Regions from separate parts of the Homo sapiens genome. Here region 1 is linked to region 2. Evidence: fine-mapped expression QTL. A gene starts in region 2. The other region holds a variant in brackets. All regions are shown on one strand. Distances are from middle to middle.

Region 1 (9,556 bases), 680 kb after region 2:
CCCATGTCCGGCTAATTTTTTGTGTTTTTAGTAAAGACGGGGTTTCACCATGTTGTCCAGGGTAGTCTCGATCTCCTGACCTCGTGGTCGATCTGCCCGCCTCGGCCTCTCAAAGTGCTGGGATTACAGGCGTGAGCCACCGCGCCCAGCCAATTTCCTTCCTTTTTTGAGGCTAAATAATATTCTATTGTCTTTATATACCATATTTTGTTTATCATTCATCTGATAATAGACACGGGTGTTATTTCTACCTTTTGACTTATTGTGAATGATGCTCTTATGAATATTGGTATAAAAATGGCTGTTCAGCTGTTCATCCTAACTGCACTTATTTTTATTATTTTTTGAGATAGGGTCTCGCTCTGTTGCCCAGGCTAGAGTACAATGGCACAATCACAGCTCACTGCAGCCTCTACCTGGGCTCAGGAGATCCTCCCACCTCAGCCTCCCAAGTAGCTGGGAATACAGGTGTGCATCACCATGGCTGTTTTTTTGGTAGAGACTAGGTTTTGCTGTGTTGCCTGGACTGGTCTCAAAATCCTGGGCTCAAGTGATCCTCCCACCTCAGCCTCCCAAAGTGCAGGGATTATAGGCATGAGCCACCACACCTGGCCTCATCATAACTACTTTTATATTTATATCTCTTTTTTCACACACTGAAAATCTAGGTCCCTAAAAACATTAGTATTTATCCTACACTAAGTATACAATTATTCAAAAATTGTAATAGCAACAACCTCTAAAAACAAACCTACAAAAGATATAAAGCAGATTGGTGGTTTTCAGGGCCTGGGAGAAGGGTGGAGTAAGGAGTGGCTGATTCATGGGGATGAGGTGTTCTTTTGAGGCAATAAAAAGTTCCAGATAGTGATGATAGATAGTGGTGATAGTTGCACAACATCTTCAATGTCCTAAATGCCACCGAGTTGTACACTTTAAAACTTTAATTAATTTCATGTGAGTTTCACCTCAATTAAAAAAAAGAAGACAGGCCAGGCGCGGTGGCTCACGCCTGTAATCCCAGCACTTTGGGAGGCTGAGGCGGGTGGATCACGAGGCCAAGAGATTGACGCCATCCTGGCTAATATGGTGAAACCTCGTCTCTGCTAAAAATACAAAAATTAGCTGGGCGTGGTGGCACGCGCCTATAGTCCCAGATACGTGGGAGGCTGAGGCAGGAGAATCGCTTGAACCCGGGAGGCGGAGGTTGCAGTGAGCCGAGGTCGCACCACTGCTCTCCAGGCTGGGTGACAGAGCAAGACTCCGTCTCAAAACACACACGCGCTTGCACACACACACACACACACAGACATGGGGGCTATTTAAGATGCCTATGTCATTCTTTTTGTCCTTAAAATATGTCACTGAATATATATCACCCTGAGGAGGTACAGTAAGATCACTGTGTTCAACAGGTAGTATTAACAGAAATAAGTTTTCATCCAGGCACAGTGGCTCACTCCTGTAATCTCAGCGCTTTGGAAGCCGAGGTGGGCGGATTACTTGAGTTCAGGAGTTCGAGACCAGCCTGGCCAACATGGTGAAACCCTGTCTCTATGAAAAACACAAAAATTAACCAGGTGTGGTGGCAGGCGCCTGTAATCCCAGCTACTCGGGAGGCTGAGGCAGGAGAATCGCTTGAACCTGGGAGGTGAAGGCTGCAGTGAGCTGAGATTGTGCCACTGCACTCCAGCCTGGGCCATAGAGTGAGACTCTATCTCAAAAAATAAATAAATAAATAAGTTTTCTCATTTTGATTATGTTATCAATTTGATATGCAATTAGGTTACTTGTTTCTGTATTGTATTCACCTTTGGGATTTGCTTTTTATCTTTTTTTTATTATTATTATTATTATTTTTTGAGATGGAGTTTCACTCTTGTTGCCCAGGCTGGAGTGCAATGGTGCAATCTCAGCTCAGTGCAACCTCTACCTCCCGGGTTCAAGCGTTTCTCCTGCCTCAGCCTCCCGAGTGGCTGGGATTACAGGTGCGTGGCACCACACATGGCTAATTTTGTATTTTTAGTAGAGATAGGGTTTCTCCATGTTGGTCAGGCTGGTCTCAAACTCCTGACCTCAGGTGATCCGCCTGTCTCAGCCTCCCAAAGTGCTAGGATTACAGGCATGAGCCGCTGCATCCGGCCTATTTTTATTTGAGATGAGGGTCTCATTCTGTTGCCCAGGGTGGAGTGCAATGGTACAATCTCAGCTGACTGCAACCTTTACTTCCTGGGCTCAAGAGATCCTCCTCCCTCAGTCTGGGACAACACATCTTGAATGTACTAAATGCCACTGAATAGTAAACTTTAAAACAGCAAATTTCATGTCTGAGTTTCACCTCAATAAAAAAAACAAAACTACAAATGTGGGTGATATTTACGATGCCTATGTACTTATTTTTGTCCTTAAAATATGCCACCCTGCGTGGCTAATTTTTGTATTTTTTTGTTTGTTTTTTGTTTTGTTTTGTTTTGTTTTGAGATGGAGTCTTGCTCTGTCACCCAGGCTGTAGTACAGTGGCTCCATCTCAGCTCACAGCAACCTCTGCCTCCTGGGTTCAAGCAATTCTCCTACCTCAGCCTCCTGAGTAGCTGGGACTACAGGTGCGCCCACCACGCCTGGCTAATTTTTGTATTTTTAGTAGAGATGGGGTTTCACCATGTTGGCCAGGCTGGTCTCAAACTCCTGACCTAAAGTGATCCTCCCGCCTCAGCCTGCCAAAGTGGTGGGATTACAGGCATGAGCCACCGTGCCTAGTCTTTTCCATTTTAAATGATAAGAAATGATAACACTTTATCAAATGTTATAAATATTTTTTTAATTTGTCCTTTGCCTTTCATTTTTGAACACAGCCTTAAAAAGAACAGGAATGTAAGATTCGTATGTGGCCCATTTTACCATAAGGGAGCTTCATGGTTTCTTGTCTCCGGTGCTGTGTACTTTTTCTTTTTGCTTTTCTGTGTCTTTGCATTGAAACATTTAACCATTGGCTTTTGTTTCCAGGTGAAGTAGGCATCGAACTCTGCTCATTTTCCAAATCACTGGCCATTTTGAATGACAAGTCCTTTGCCGCCCACTTTGATATGCTTCCTTTACTGCAGACTGAGTTCTCATGGAGGCTCAGGTCTCTTTCTGGACTCTCTTCCAGTCTATCCCTCTGCCATTCACGTTGTTATAGTTCCTGCCCAGTCTCCACTGTAGAATCTCTGAATTCCCCCAGACTGGAGAGTTGGGAGGTTGGACCGACCCCCTTTGTAAGGTTTTAGTTCAAGGCAAACCCCGTGGCCCAGCCGTTCAGAAGACACGTTCGGGCGATACCTTCTGCCCAGGTACTGTTTTCAGTGCCAAAAATAGAAAGATGATAAAGGCTTGGTCCCTAAGGCTCTCAAGGGTGACTGCTGCAGTGTTGGAGTTGAGTTTTGAAGGTTGGATAGAATTTTCTGGGCAGAGGAGAAAGGGCAGTGGGGGAACAGAACGTGGCAGACCTAGGAGGCATCATGACGGGGCTCAGGGCCAGCTCCCTATGGCTGGAGCAAGGATGGGAGTGAAGGAGTGTCCCAGCTTTGGTCTTGGGGAGGGAGGCAGGGCTGGGCCTCTTTCCCAGTGCCGAGCACTGGAAAGCCACTGAAGCTTTTATATGAACAGAAGCAGAGTAGCCTGGTGGGCTCTGGTTTGGTAAGATGGGCCTGGGGGTTGGGTGGGGAGGCAGCTACTTAGAGGGACAGTGAGGGTCTGTCTGAGAGGTCCTCCCCATTCTCCGCCAAGTCCCTCTGGACTTAGATTCAGAGCCAAGGGTAACTCTGATTTGTTTGGAGGCCTGTCCCTCTCATCCTGACCCCGCCTTGGCCCTGGATAGATGCATTAGGCGGTGTGTCCTACCTGTGGCCCAAGGTCCTCCCTCTCCTCCTCCCTCCCAGGATCTCCAGAAAGACCCAGGCTTGCCTGTAATCCCAGCACTTTGGGAGGTCGAGGGCAGATCACTTGAGGTCAGGAGGTCAAGACCAGCCTGGCCAACGTGGTAAAACCCCGTCTTTACTAAAAATACAAAAAAATTAGCCAGGCGTGGTGGCAGGTGCCTGGCACCTACTCGGGAGGCTGAGGCAGGAAAATCGCCTGAACCCAGGAACTCAGGAGGCAGAGGTTGCAGTGAGCTGGGATTGCGCCACTATGCTCCAGCCCGGATGACAAAGTGAGACTCCATCTCAAAAAAAGAGATCCAGGCTCAATTCAAAGATGCCCGCTTGCTTTGAGCTCACATTTTCTTCTCACTCCTTGGCCGAGGCCTTGACGTGTGTCCTGGGATGGAGATGTTGGGGTGGGGACCGGGTAACTCTGGTCCCTTGTGGCGCTGAGGGAGCATGACAGGAGAGCTGTCCAACCCCACTGCACATTCTTGAGGGCTCCTTCCGATGGCCCAGGAGGCTCACTGGGCAGGCATGGAGAGTGAGCCTGGGGACTTGCCCAGGACTTGGGAGAAGAAGTGCAGAGACAAGATTGCCCCCAGGCCTCTGAGTGGCTTCAAGGAGGGGAGTGGACAGGAGAGGTGGGGCATCACGGGGCTGGCTACCAGGAAGGAGCTGGGCCCGGGAAGGAAAAGGGCCCCCAATCCCATGGGTTGTTGTAAAAACTCCCAGAAGGCCTGGGGCAGGTGGAGAGGGCTGGGGGACTCCGCGTGGGTTCACGAAGCCTTGTGACTCACTGTCCTGCCACTCTGTTTCTCAACTAACCAGCTCAGTGCAGGAATCCCTGGGGGTGCGGAGCCCTTTCTGAGTCAACCTTTTCCTCAATGGGCAACTCATCGTCTGGGACCACATGAACCCAGCTGCACCCCAAGCTGTGTCCTGCCTGCCCTGTGGCCTCAGCCAGGTGGGCCCGTGTACCCCTCCCCATCTCTTTCTTCCACTGCAAAATGGGGGGATTGTGCAGCGTGCCTGGTATCTGGTCCATCTTCAATACACAGCGATGGGGATGGTCTCATGTCTCCCTCCCGCTCCTTGGTCTTGGCAAAGATGAAGGACCTCGGGCTTCTAGAAGGATCAGCGTGCAGACCAGGGCTTCTGCATAAAGCTCCCCTGATAGCCAAGAGACAGGCCTTTCTGTTTCCCCAGCTCCTCCCACCTAGGGTAAGCCCAGCTCTGGTCAACCACACCCTTCCTTCAGGCGATCAGGTAACAGGATATCCAAGTGACACAGGGCAAATCTCTTCCCCTTCCAGCCTCAGTAAGCTCA[T/C]CTCCGTGGCCAGAGTGGAACCCGTTAGACTTTCCCATGTCCAAATTCCAGGATCCCTTTTTTTTCTTCTTCATATGAATGGGATCAAATAACATGTGACTTTTGTGTCTGGTATCTTGCATTTAGCATAATGTTTTCAAGGCTCATTCCTGTGTCAGCACTACTTTTTTTTTTTCCTGCCAGATGTACGTTCATAAGTACTTAATTTTTTTTTTTTTTTTTTCTGGAGACAGAGTTTTGCTCTTTTTGCCCAGGCTGGAATGCAGTGGCATAATCACAGCTCACTGCAACCTCCGCCTCCCCGGTTCAAGGAATTTTCCTGCCTCAGCCTCCTCAGTAGCTGAGATTACAGGCATGCACCACCACACCTGGCTAATTTTTTGTATTTTTAGTAGAGACAGGGTTTCACCATGTTGACCAGGCTGGTCTCAAACTCCTGACCTCAAGTGATCAGCCCACCTCGGCCTCCCAAAGTGCTGGGATTACAGGTGTGAGCCACCACACCTCAGCCTCCAGAGTAGCTGCCTCAGCCTCCAGAGTAGCTGGGATTATAGGTGTGCACCACCACACCTGGGTAATTTTTGTTCTTTTAGTAGAGACGGGGTTTTGACATGTTGGCCAGGCTGGTCTCAAACTCCTGCCCGCTAGTGATTCACCCGCCTTGACCTCCCAAAGTGCTGAGCCACCAAGCCCAGCCCCAGCAAGTCTTTTTTTTGTTTGTTTATTAATGGCTAGGACTTCATTTGTTAATGGCTGAGTAATACTCCATTGTGTGGACAGACCAGTTACTTCTCTGGACATCTGGGTTGTTGCCCCTCTTTGGCTGTTACCAGTCATGCTGCTGTGAACTCTCATGCATAAGTTTTTGTGTACACAGATGTTTTCAATTCTGCTGGGCATATGCCTGGGAGTGGAATTGCTGGGTCACAGGGTGATTCTAAGTTTGTTTGTTTGAGGGACCTCCAGGCTGTCTTCCATTGATGCTGCACGTTGAACATGAGGGCTCATTCTGAATTCTCTACATTTACTTCCCTGTTAGGGGAAATCTCAGGGTTTTAGAAAAAAGCTGCAACAAAAGAAGTGGCCGCCCGTCCAGCCATGAAGCCTAACGAATTGCTTGGGACCTGTTGGCCCCTTTACCCTGGAGATCCACCCTCTGAGCTCTGCCGCGTGCCAGTTCCGCTATTGGGAGGAGCTCAGGAGGATGATGAGGATCCCAGAAAGTTCTATGCCCACTGCTTTCATCCTGGCTGTAGCCTGCCAGGAGGGCACTGTTATTATTATGGCCACTTTTTTGGATAAGAAAGTGAGGGCTCAGACATTATAAGACTTGCTGGGGCCTGTAATCCCAGCACTTTGGGAGGTAGAGGTGGGCAGATCACGAGGTCAGGAGTTCGATACTCTCCTGGCCAACATGGTGAAACCCCGTCTCTACTAAAAATACAAAATTAGCCAGGCATGGTGGCGGGTGCCTGTAATCCCAGCTACTCAGGAGGCTGAGGCAGGAGAATTGCTTGAACCTGGGAGATGGAGGCTGCAGTGAGCTGAGATTGTGCCACTGCATTGCAACCTGGGCAACAGAGCAAGACTCCATCTCAAAAAAAAAAAAAAAAAAGACTTGGGGCTGGGCTTGGTGGCTCAGCACTTTGGGAGGTCAAGGCGGGTGAATCACTAGCGGGCAGGAGTTTGAGACCAGCCTGGCCAACATGTCAAAACCCCGTCTCTACTAAAAGAACAAAAATTACCCAGGTGTGGTGGTGCACACCTATAATCCCAGCTACTCCGGAGGCTGAGGCAGGAGAATCGCTTGAACCTGGGAGATGGAGGCTGCAGTGAGTCGAGATCGCACCACTGCACTCCAGCCTGGGCGACAGAGCGAGACTCTGTCTCAACAACAAGAAAAACACTTGCTGGATGTCACACAGCCTCATAGTGACCCACCTGGGATCTGAAGCCAGGTGGCCTGACTCCAGGCTCTGTGACTGTAACCATGAATCTGCACTGCCAATGCCCCTTGTCCCCGAGCTGGTGGGGGCCTGGGGTGCACGTGGCGCTCTCTGCCCTCTGATATTTCAGCCGTAGAGGGGTCTGCCTCTGTTTGAAGAACCTGGGGGTGGAGATTCCATGTTGATGGCAAGAGGCCTCCTTTCTCTGATCCCAGGGGAGAAAAAAAGTGGGAAGGGGGCATACTGCCAGCCGCCTGGCCCCCCTGCCCTGTGCCCCTCACACAGCTGGCACCAACGTCAGTTCATGTTGCCCAAGCCATCTGGCTGATTAACCATGGCTGCCATCCCCAGGAGGCTCCTGGAGCATCAGAATGAGCTTATTACTCGAACAACAGGGCCCCTTCCCTCCTTGGAACTCCTGCCTGCCTCTCTCTGGGGACCTGTCCTCAGAGGGACTGGTGGGGAGGGAGGAATAGCTGGGCAAAGTCCTGCCCACGGCTGCCCCAAGAAGAGGGTACCTACAGCTTGCTTTAGGACAAGGACATGTAGGAAGGCCCCCTGGCCAGGTCATGTGCTCAGGCAGGGTCTGTCTGTCTAGAAGAGTCTCTTTTTTTGAGAGGAAGTCTTGTTCTGCTGCAGTGCAAAAGCTCACTGCAACCTTCGCCTCCCGGGTTCAAGTGATTCTCCTGCCTCAGCCTCCCGAGTAGCTGGGATTACAGGCACGTGCCACCACACCCAGCTAATTTTTATATTTTTAGTAGAGACGGGGTTTCGCCATGTTGGCCAGGCTGGTCTTGAACTTCTGACCCCAAGTGATCCTCCTGTCTTGGCCTCCCAGAGTGCTGGGATTACAGACGTGAGCCACCACACCAGGCTGGGAGTCTTTATTTTTAATTTTTTTTCTATTTCTAATTTTTAATGCATTTCAAACCGGGGTCCTTATTTTTTTGTCTTTTTTTAAACTATAAAGAAACAGGGTCTTGCTATGTTGCCCAGGGCGGTCTTGAACTCTTCGAGTCAAGCAATCCTCCCATCTTGGCCTTCCAAAATGCTGGGATTACGGGTGTGAGGCACCGCGGCTGGCATAACCAGAGTCTTTAGATACCTCTCTGGGCCCTGGGAGGCTGCCTTCATTTCAACAGCTTTAGTGAGACATACTTTACATACCATAAAATTCCCTCATCTGAAGTGTTCAATCCTATGAGTTTTAGTAAATCTATGTCATTTTGCAACCATCACCCCAAACTAATCTTACACATTTCCATCGCTCCAAAAAGAAACCATGTAGCTGGCCAGGCGCAGTGGCTCACGCCTGTAATCCCAGCAGTTTGGGAGGCCAAGGAGGAGCAAAGTCACATCTTACATGGTGGCGGGCACGAGAGAGTGTGTGCATGGGAACTCCCCTTTATAAAAGCATCAGATCTCATGAGACTTATTCACTCTCATGAGAACAGCAGGGGAAAGACCCACCCCCGTGATTCAGTTACCTCTCGCTGGGTTATGGGAGCTACAATTCAAGATGGGATTTGGGTGGAGACACTGACAAACTGTATCATAGGTTCATGCCCAAACACAGAGAGCCTCAGGCTAGGAGCCATCAGATCTCCGGGGCCTTCTTCCCTCCATGACCCCAACCCACCCTAATTCTGGCCATCCGAGCCTGAGCTGCTGCTCTGATGATCCCAGTGTGAGCCCAGAGGCAGCCAGCCCGTTTCCGACTACTGGGAGAACCCCAGGGCTGCTGTCTGTGCCTCCCGCTTTGGGCTTGGGTCCTGTGAACTTGTGACCTCTGCGGGAGAAAATCTCCCAGCAGACGGGGTTGACTGGGGCCTGAGCAGGAGGCCTGACATTGGCTCTGGTGCCTGACATGAGTTGGCTGAGTGTGACAAGAGGCTCCCTGGACAGAAGAAACAGTCATTTCCCAAAGTGCTTTCTGGGAATGATGGAGTTGGAAGCCCTGGGTTCAAATCCCCTCCCTGGCCCTCACTAGGCATTGCTGTTACCTCTCCGCATCTGTTTCCTCTTCTGCAAAGTGGGATGTAATCCATCTCAAAGCATTAGCTGTGGTTAAAGAGAATCAGGCGAGAATCAGGGTGTCACCTCCTCCAGGTCGGGAGAAAATGCTCTCCTATGGATTTCTGCAGCCCCTGTGCGTGGCTGGGGTCCCAGCACTGGTCACACAAGGCTGTCCTTTTCCGTCTCCCCTGGCTGACTTGGCTCCTTGGGAACAGAGAGTGTGCCATATTCACCTCTGTCCCCAGCTCCTCCTTGGGCCTGGTGCAGAGTGGGCGGCAGGGACTGAATAGCTGAAATGACAATCCCTCCTAGGCTGGGCGTGGTGGCTCATGCCTGTAATCCCAACACTCTGGGAAGCCGAGGAG
Region 2 (9,556 bases):
GAGAAGACAGAAGGAAAGCTGAGAGCTGGCCCGACATGGTCTGGGACACAGAGTTGGAGCTGGCACTGAAGATCTCCAGGGACTTCAGAGACCAATAAAAGCCCATAGGGAAGAGAGAGAGGATATAGGGAAACAGAATCAGATGTGTAATATACTTGGCACAGCGAAAAAATGGATTTAAAAGACAAAAATGGAGGTCCAGGTAGATGTAATTCACACAGACTGAAAGTGAGTTCGGGCTTGTGTAAAACACATGAGATTGGATTTGACCCCTTGGCTCTCAAGTGTCCCCTTAGATCTAGAACTGCTCCTTGGTGGCCATTAGATCGAGTCAGTTTTGATCTGCATCACTTAGTTATTGGGAATTTCTTTGTTGGAAACAGGAAAATTTTTTTAGATTATTTGGTGTACGGTTTTGCTCACAACAATAGGTGGAAGTTGCTAGTGCAGTCTTGGTCTGATGGCTGTGTGCATCGCACATTCGGCTTGGTGAAATCCTTCTCTAAAGCCTCTTTTTGTATTTTTATAACTAAACAGAGGAAGTCTTCAGAAGACCTCGCTTTAAAACAAATTTGTGCAAACACTGCTAGAGTCATTTTGAAGCTCAAGCATTTTCACTTTGTTTCTTACATGTGTACTTTTTTGTTTACTTGTGAAAATGGCCATCTTTAAGCATATTTATTTTCTGCCACTTTATTTAAAGGCAAGCAATATTTTCTTGATCATAAATATTTTGTAATGAAATACTTCCTCTTTTCCAGGGCTTTGTATGCACTTGTATAATTACATTGATGGCAATGTAGAGTTTGAATTTCAGTCTGTAAATACTTTTTTGGAAAATAGAAATTTTTATTGCTTTAAAGTTTTGGATATGGGTGGTTTTCTTTTCCGGGTTTGGTGGAAAGTAATTTGAGAACTTTAAGGTTGTCTTTTTAACTGCTGGCAAAATGTTGATTTTTTAATATTAGATAAAACGAGTAAACGAAATTCCCCAGAAATTAGTAGTAAGTGGGGTCTTTGTGGGTTGGGAAGTAGTTTTAATGTAGAAAGACATTTACATATAAGTCTGTTTAATTTCAAAGGAGTTTGTGAAAAAAAATCCATGGTGAAAATGAAACAATGACATGGTTAATCTGGAACTTACGTTCTTATACCAATAAAAGGTACCTCAATACATGTTCTTTCAATTTCTGTTTTGTTTTTTTTTTTTTAATTTAATGTATTAAAGCATTTTGCAGTGGAAAACTCCTGAGGCATTGCTGTTGAAGAGGGAGAAATAGTGCTGGTGTGGCGGGGAGCTTGATGGAATTCATTGCATGCCGGGGTGAGGATGGTTTCCGTGTGCACTATATGAAGTATCCGCGACTCTCCTTAATCACACCCAGCAAAGAGTGATTGAGGCTTGAGCAGGTCCAAGGGAAGCAGACACTTCTTTCAAAAAGTTACATGCTTTGAAGGGACATCTATGGGGAAAAATACTGTGAAATCTCCTTATAAATTACATGCCAACAATGGGAATTTTTCCTTTCACTAAAAAGCTGTCAGTTGTAGGAGTCTCCAGGGTCTGTCCTTTTGTCTGTGTGCTCTGGTTTGGTCTTCCTTGATGAGAAGTGGCTGAATTTTTACAAGTCAACTTACCAAGTGCCATGGGCTTCCTTTCCTAGCTAGCTGTTTGACGTTGAGCAAGTTACCTAACCTCTCTGAGCGCTAATTAAACTGTAAAATGGGAATAAGATACTAGTGTAAGGCTTTAAGGATTCGATGCATGTACAAGTTAATGGCTGTTGTTTTCTTGCAAGAAAGGAAGCACTTCCATGGGAAGTTTTTTTTGGTTAAAGATAACTTCTATTTCTTCCATAATACCTACCTCCCTGGTACCAACTTAGATCTGAACTGGAGAGGAGGAACCAGCGTGTTTCCCTTGCCGGGCAGTGCTTACGATGGTGGTTCTTAACCCTGGCTGTGCCCTAGAATCAGTCCCTTGGAGTGCTGAGAAACTAAGGATGCCCAGGCTCACGTCACACACCAACTCAACCTTTGATTGAATCAGTCTCCAGAAGAGGGGTCTGGACATGGATGGTTTTTAAAGCCCCCTGGTGATTCGAAGGTGCAGGCTGCCTTGAGAACTGTTCATTGGTGTACAACTGCATACTTTTCTTGTTTCAACTAATTGAACATCCAAAGCTCCACCATGTTTTCTTCCATCAAATGCTTTTGTGTGTTTCAGTCTGACTCTGGATGGTTGAGTAGGATTTATAATGTATCTAATAATTTGGGGCCAGGTGTGGTAGCTCATGCCTGTAATCTGAGCACTTGGGGAGGCCAGCAAAAGGATCTCTTGAAGCCAGGAGTTTGAGATCAGCTGGGGCAACATAGTGAGACCCCCATCTCTACATTAAAAAATTTGAAACACAAATTGGGATCCTTTCACTAAATATTTACTAAGGTTCTGTATAATGTTCATCATTCTTTTTTTTGAGACAAGAGTCTCACTCTGTCACCCAGGCTGGAGTGCAGTGGTGCAATCACAGCTCAACAACTGCAACCTCCGCCTCCTGGGCTCAAGTGATCCGCCCACCTCAGTCTCCTGAGTAGCTGGGACTACAGGTACGCACCACCATGCCTGGCTAATTTTTGTATTTTTAGTAGAGATGGAGTTTCACTATGTTGGCCAGGCTGGTCTTGAACTCCTAACCTCAAGCAATCTGTCCGCCTCGGCCTCCCAAAGTGCTGGGATTACAGGCGTGAGCCACCATGTCTGGCCTCAAAAAAGTGTAATTTAAAAAATATTTCCCTGTATATATTCTTTGAACTTTGCCATCAGCCATCTTGTGAGGCAGGTTGGTTTCCTATCTTAAAGAAACAGGCTTTCCAACATTGTAATTAGTGCTTTCTTTTTCTTTTTCTTTTTTTTTTGAGACGGTCTTGCTGTAATCACCCAGGCAGGAGTGCAGTGGCACAGTCGTGCCTCATTGCAGCCTTGACCTCTAGGGCTTGATTGATCCTCCCGAGTAGCTGGGACTACAGGCCTGCCACCATGCCCAGCTAATTTTTGTATTTGTTGGAGAAGCAGGGATCCCTGTGTTGTCCAGGCTCGTCTCGAACTTCTGGGCTCAAGTGAGTCCTCCTTCGGCCTTTCAAAGTGCTGGGGTTACAGGCATGAGCCGCAGTGCTGGCCACACACCTGCTATTGCTTCCTCATTGCCTGTAGACCAAAATTTGTGGAGCTGGGTGGGAAGAGAGGTAGGGGAGTGGTTTCCTGCTTGTTATCTGGCTCATTTAGTCCTTTAACACAGTACTCAGCCTAGGAGATTGATAACCTGAGATTACTTGAAAAAAGATCACCCAAAAGTGAAAAACCAGTTAGGCAAACTGCACCAGCCCCAGGCAGAACCCACAGAACCTTGTTCTTCACCTTTGCACTTCCAAATGCCTCACTTTGATTGACTACTCTTTGCTCTGCAATTCCAATAATAGCTATCTTTAGTGTTTAGTATGTACCAGGTGAAACAAACATGCTATTCTACAAAACCAGTTCAGGGAAGTTAAGTAACTTGCTCCAGGCCAGCCTGCTGGTCATTGATCACCCTGGTTTCAAACCCTGTTTTTAGCTCCGAGCTTCCTAGTTGGGACTTACTTAATGTCACCTGCATTAGAATGAGTTGTTTACAGTACAGTCTAGGAGCATCTTATAGTGATGGAGAGCACTGCCTTTGGAATCATGCAAAGCTAGGTTCAGTCTTCGTTCTACTACTTATTTCTACCACTTTGAGCAAGTTACTGTATCTGTTATAACGGAGGTGTTGATAGTAGCTCCTACATTTGTGAGGACAAATGACAAATGAGGTGTTGATAGTAGCTCCTACATTTGTAAGGACAAATGAGAAATGTAGGTGTAATAATACAGAGAAATAATTTCCTGGTAGCTAGAAATAGAGTTATTTTGGGTGAGAAGTTGGGTAACCTGGCGATGGGAACACCATCTTCTACAGTCATTTCTTTAGTAAATTTCCTGGTATTTTTGTTGAACGGGGTGTGTAAGCTGAGGGGGAGATTTATGAAAGAAGACGATGAATACAGATGATAAAATTCTAATAAAGTTTCTGCTGTATCATGTGGCTCCTCTGTATCTTTTGTAAAATTACTTTTTGTTAATGTGCTGCAGAGTTGGATGAATTTGAGCAATATTTCCAAGTTTTAGAAGAGAGCTCCACGGTGAGACGCCTCTCACCTTGGGGACCTGTCCTCAGATTAGGGGCTCTGCAGTCAGTATCCGCAAATCCTTCCCCCACGGTTCCCAGCCCACCTGTGAGTGGCCTATTGCATTCCAATCACGACGTGTTAATCGATGATCTCTTTAGTACGTGGGGCTAGCACAGTTCAGGATCTATTTTCTCAGTTTAAGACCGTTTACATTTATTTTTATTATTTTCAGAAACAGAGTGTCCCTCTGCAGTGCCCAAACATAGCTCATTGCAGCCTCCCACTCCTGGGGTCAAGAGATCCTCCCGCCTCAGCCTACAGAGTGGCTGGGATCACAGGTGCATGCCACCGTGCCCAGTTAATTTTTAAATTTTTGGCAGAGACGAGGGTATGGGGGAGGGTGGGTCTCACTATGTTGCCCAGGCTGGTCTCGAACTCCTGGCCTCAAGCGATCCTCCTGCCTCGGCCCCCCAAAGTGCTGGGATTACAGGCGTGAGCCACCGTGCCCGCCTGATTAGGTTTATTATTACTCATTGAATGCAATCCTACGGAGCTGCACAGCAGGGTCCCAAACTCAAGCTTGTGGAAGGTCACACACCTGGGAAGCGTGGAGCAATGACCTAAAGCGCAGCAGTCGGAGCCAGAACCCGCCCCAGGAACTCGCCCGGAGGCTCTCTTGGCTGGTGCAGCTGCTCCCTGGCAGCTCTCCTTTCCCCGCTCCTTCACTCCCACGCTTTTGGGACTACACTTCCCAGCGCCCCTTGCGGAGGAGGCGGGCCGCGCGCTGCTTCCAGGGCCACTTCCTGGCTTTGGACTACATTTCCCGTGAGGCCTTGCGGCCATGTCCTGGATTTCTCCAGTCTCTTCGGCCGGCACCGCCTCCGCCTGGACTCCACTTCCCGGCAGCGCCCGCGGTGGGGCGGGGCAGGACGAGGCGGGACGCGCGGCCCGAGGGGCGGGGGCGGCGGGCGGCCCGGGGCTGCAAAGCGGGGGGCCGCCGCCTCCCTGGGCCTGCCTGGGCGGCCGCCTCCGCGATGCCGCTGCTCGTCGAGGGGCGGCGAGTGCGGCTGCCGCAGTCAGCCGGGGACCTCGTCCGAGCCCACCCGCCTTTGGAGGTGAGTGGGGCGCGGCGCGGGGCTTCGGGGCGGGCCCGAGGGGAAGCTGCAGGGCGGGCTAGCGCCCCCCTCACGCGACACAGACTTGAAACTTGGCGCTGTTGGCACATCCGGAGCCCCGGCCGTCGGCTCGCGTCTTCCCCTTGAGGGGTCGGGGAGTTTTTGCCTTCTTTAGACTTCAGCGGGCTGCCCCGGAGGCCACTCTCTGACAAGGGAGGGGACGGGGGCCCAGAGAGGTTAGGTGACTTGCCCAAGGTCGCACAGCACTGCGGCTCGGGGACACGCCGGGACCCCCATTCCCCGACGGGGCGGCTGCAGCCCCCATAGGGCTGGGTCCGTTTAGGCAAATCCGGCCGCCCGCCTTCGGGGACCCGCAGCCTGCGGTGAACGTTGCTTCGTCCTTGCGTCCCCGTGAAGCAGGAGGTTATTCCAGGGTGGGCTTCGGAGAGCGTTTGGCCTGGGGGATCTTGGCGGGGACCCCCAGTCCTTCCTCCTCTCTCTCCCCTACCCCCGGGGCGTAGGGCGCCGAGTTATTTTTAGCCGGGAGAGAGAGCCCTGCTTTCCGCAGCTGGGCCATAGGACCACGCCCTGATGCACGGGTTTTGTTTTTGTTTTTTCTGCTTTTGTGCTCAAATAGATCTCTGAACTCTTGTCCACGCTTATGCAGGGACTGTTGGCAAGGGGGTTCTCAGGTTTTAAAAAGAGCGGGGCGTGGCGGCGGGGGCAGACGTCCTATTTGCCATAGATCCTGTTAAAGGGGAATCAATCAGTTCCTTGATTTGAGAGTCAAATATCGAGCCCCTAATATCTGTTGGGCAACGTACTGATCACTGTCCCTGCCCTCGGAGTGTTTATAGTCTAGAAGGGAGAATGGTTTCTGATGAAGAAGGCTCAGATACTATAAACTGTTAAGTACCATAAAGAAAAAGCGTCCCCTTTCACTCTGAGATGGGAAGCACAGGAACCTGACCAAGTGTGTTGGGTTGGGGAAGGCATTTAGAGGTTTCATCTGTCACAGCTGTACAGTTTGTGATTATTTTGTTTGCTTGTTTGTTCTCTATTGGTCTGTCGCCAGAATGTAAGCCTCCTGAAGGCAGATAAGAGTAGTGTCCTCACTTTTGTATCCTCAGAGTGTAGGACGGTCCCTGGCATAGAATTGGCGCTCAGTAAAGATTTGCTGCATAAATGAGGTCACAAAATGACCCCTGAACGTGTTCTGAAGGGTGACAAGGACTTACTGACGGGGAGAAGGCAGACAGCTCTGTGTGATTCTCAGCTTGCATTTCAGGACCGACCATCGTCTGTTAGCCAACATGCACCGAGCTAGGCGTGGTGGCGTGTCACTTTATCCTTGCGTTGTGTTACTGTCCTGTTAGCTAGCGAAGTCAAGAGTAGGACTCACCAAGGAAAAATAATTTCAGCCGCCTGAAGAATTTAGGGGATGCTCTACTTTTATGTCTGTTTGAAAATGTCCGTGATAGAAAGTTAGATGGGTGTCCCGGGCTGCACACTTAAGTGTGGAGGGAGATTTGGTGACATACCGGGGCTGCTTCTCTCGAAGGAAGGTTTTGGCCTATTTAAGAAGACATGTCCTAGAAAGGCTGTGTACTGGGGACCAGTTTGTGTTACAGGAACTTTGGAAGGGGGCGATCACTTTGATTTGCGGCAGTGTAAGTGAAGAAGGATGCAGGCACGAGAGAGATTTGAAAAGGAGAAGAAGGGTGAGGGCATCGCAGCTGGGCAAGCCGCCTGGGGCGCGGCGGGCAGGAGGGGAAGGGCCCAGTGGGTGGGTGTCCTGGCCAGTTTCTCCGGAGCAGCCCGGGTGAGGAGGGGAAGCATGGAAAGTAACCTTACAGGGGTGGATTGTACCCAGATGACCAAATGACCAAGGGGCTTAGATGGACCTTTCACCTACTTAGCAACAGGGAGACATTAAAGGTTGGGTTTTTTGTTTGTTTGTTTGGTTGGTTGGTTTTTTTGAGACTTAGTTTTGTTCTGTGGCCCAGGCTGGATTGCTGTGGCACAATCTCGGCTCACTGCAACCTCTGTCTCCCAAGGTTCAAGCGATTCTCCTGCCTCAGCCTCCCAAGTAGCTGGGATTACAGGTGCATGCCACCACACCCAGCTAATTTTTTTATTTTTAGTAGAGACGGGTTTTCACCATGTTGGCCAGGCTGTTCTTGAACTCCTGACCTCAAGTGATCTGCCCGTCTCGGCCTCCCAAAGTGCTGGGATTACCGGTGTGAGCCACTCCACCTGGCCTGGATTATTTTTATATAATAAAACAGGGTGTCCTCTTTGTAGGAAAGCAAAATATAATAATACAGAAAAAAAAGTATGACTACAACCATTCTTTAGTTTGGTGAAAGTCCTAATGAAGGTTTTTCTTTGTATATAATTTACTTTTTTTAAAAAAATGATAGCTTACTATATGTTGTTTTATAATGTGTCTTTTTCATGTAACGATGTGTTCTGAGTATGGAGTACCAACAGTTAGAAGCCTGTGTGTAGCTATGACTAGCAAATAATAACAATAAGTCATACAGTGGAAGCTGCCAAGCACCACAGCAAGAGTTACTGCTATTCCCATTTTACAGATGAGGACTGTGGGGCACAGAGAGGCTGGGAAACTGGCCCCAGGCCCCACATCCTGGGAGTGGTGAAGCCAGGATTGGAACCCTGGCAGCCTGCCCTTGACTCTGGAGCTGCGCTATTCAGTACAGTAGCCACGAGCCATCTGGTTACTTAGGATTTAACTTAAAAATCAATTAAAATTAGATAAAATTGAAACTCAGTTCCTCAGTTGCAGTAGCCACATTTCAAGTGCCGAGCAGACAGCATGGCTACTAATGAGACAGTGTGAATATAGACGGTGGCCATCCCAGCATGAAGTTCCTTTGGCCAGAGCTGTTTAGAGCCCTCCCTTAGTCACTCTTAACCAGTCACTGGGTACTCGGTAACCAGTCCTGCAACATCTTGGGTAATACGGTTCCACAGAGTCTACAAGATGCTCGCAGCGTAGCTTAGTTCCTGCTTTTATTATTTATTTATTTATTTTTTTTTTGAGAGACAGAGCCTTGCTCTGTCACCCAGGCTGGAGTGCAATGGCACGATCTTGGCTCACTACAACCTCTGCCTCCCAGGTTCAAGTGATTCTCCTGCCACAGCCTCCTGAGTATCAGACATCTGCCACCATGCCCGGCTAATTTTTGTATTTTTAGTAGAGATGGGGCTTCAACATGTTGGCCAGGCTGGTCTGAAACTCCTGACCTCAAGCGATCATCTCGCCTCGGCCTCCAAAGTGCTGGGATTACAGGCGTGAGCCAGTGTGTTGGGCCTCATAATTTCTTATATAGCATTGTGCTTTACAGTTCACAGATCACCTTCATGCCCCTCTCCTGTTTATAAAGGAAGAATTGATAAACAGGACAGCAGGGGTGAGGGTCACATGATCATCCCCCAGGTCACAGCTAGGTGATTGGCTAAGACACAGGTCAACAAGCCACAGCTCATGGGCCGGACCCTGCTTATGTATAGCCTATAGGCCAAGAATGGTCTTTATATTTCTCAAAGGTTGAGAAAAATCAAAATAATATTTTGTAACATGGGAAATGGTATTGAAATTAAAACTTCGGTGTCACCTATAAATAAAGTTTTATTGGAACACAGCCACATCTGTATTGTCTATGGCTGCTTTCACTTCATAATAACAGCAGAGTTGAGCAATTGTGACAGAGACTGCGGCCTTGTAGAACCCCAAATATTTACTGTCTGGCCTTTTTCAGAAAATCTGCTGGTCACTGGGTTAAGAGAATACTGCCATTGAATAGGAACTGGGAAATAGGGATGAGGGACTGAGGGAAAAGCTTTTTTTTTTTTAAGCAAATATTAGTGTCTAGAGCATATTAGAGGTTAAGAAAACTGGGACTACTTGCATATGAATTTATAAAGTAGGACTGTGTGGTTTTCCAAAGAAGGGAAGTTTGGCTAAACTCTTTTTACTACTTAAAAGAGCAAAAATTAGCCAAGTGTGGTGGCGTGCGCCTGTGGTTCCAGCTACTGCAAAGGAGGCTGAGGTGGGAGGATTGCTTGAGCCCAGGAGTTTGAGGTTGCAGTGAGCTATGATCTGGCCACAGCACTTCAGCCTGGGCAACAGAGTGAGGCCTTGTCTCTAAAAAAAAAAAAAAAAAAATTAAAAATAAAGTAGAGGCTGGGCACAGTGGCTCATGCCTATAATC

What was found.
Region 1: its variant is fine-mapped to the expression of NTAN1 in sigmoid colon (GTEx, PIP above 0.99).

What each region holds. Positions count from the first base shown.
Region 1 is chr16:14,374,066-14,383,621 of GRCh38, reverse strand. No RefSeq gene overlaps it. Among named protein-coding and RNA genes, the nearest start is that of LINC02130, 8.6 kb to the right of the region's middle. RefSeq lists an enhancer at 7,283-7,783 and a silencer at 9,130-9,305. The variant T/C (reference allele first, on the strand shown) is at 5,230.
Region 2 is chr16:15,051,653-15,061,208 of GRCh38, reverse strand. It overlaps NTAN1 (N-terminal asparagine amidase), which reads left to right and starts at 5,135. Exons shown (of 10, transcript NM_173474.4): 1 at 5,135-5,318. The coding sequence starts at 5,238. It overlaps RRN3 (RNA polymerase I transcription factor RRN3), which reads left to right. Exons shown (of 18, transcript NM_018427.5): 18 at 1-1,176. It also overlaps a transcript of PDXDC1 not described here. RefSeq lists a silencer at 5,580-5,764.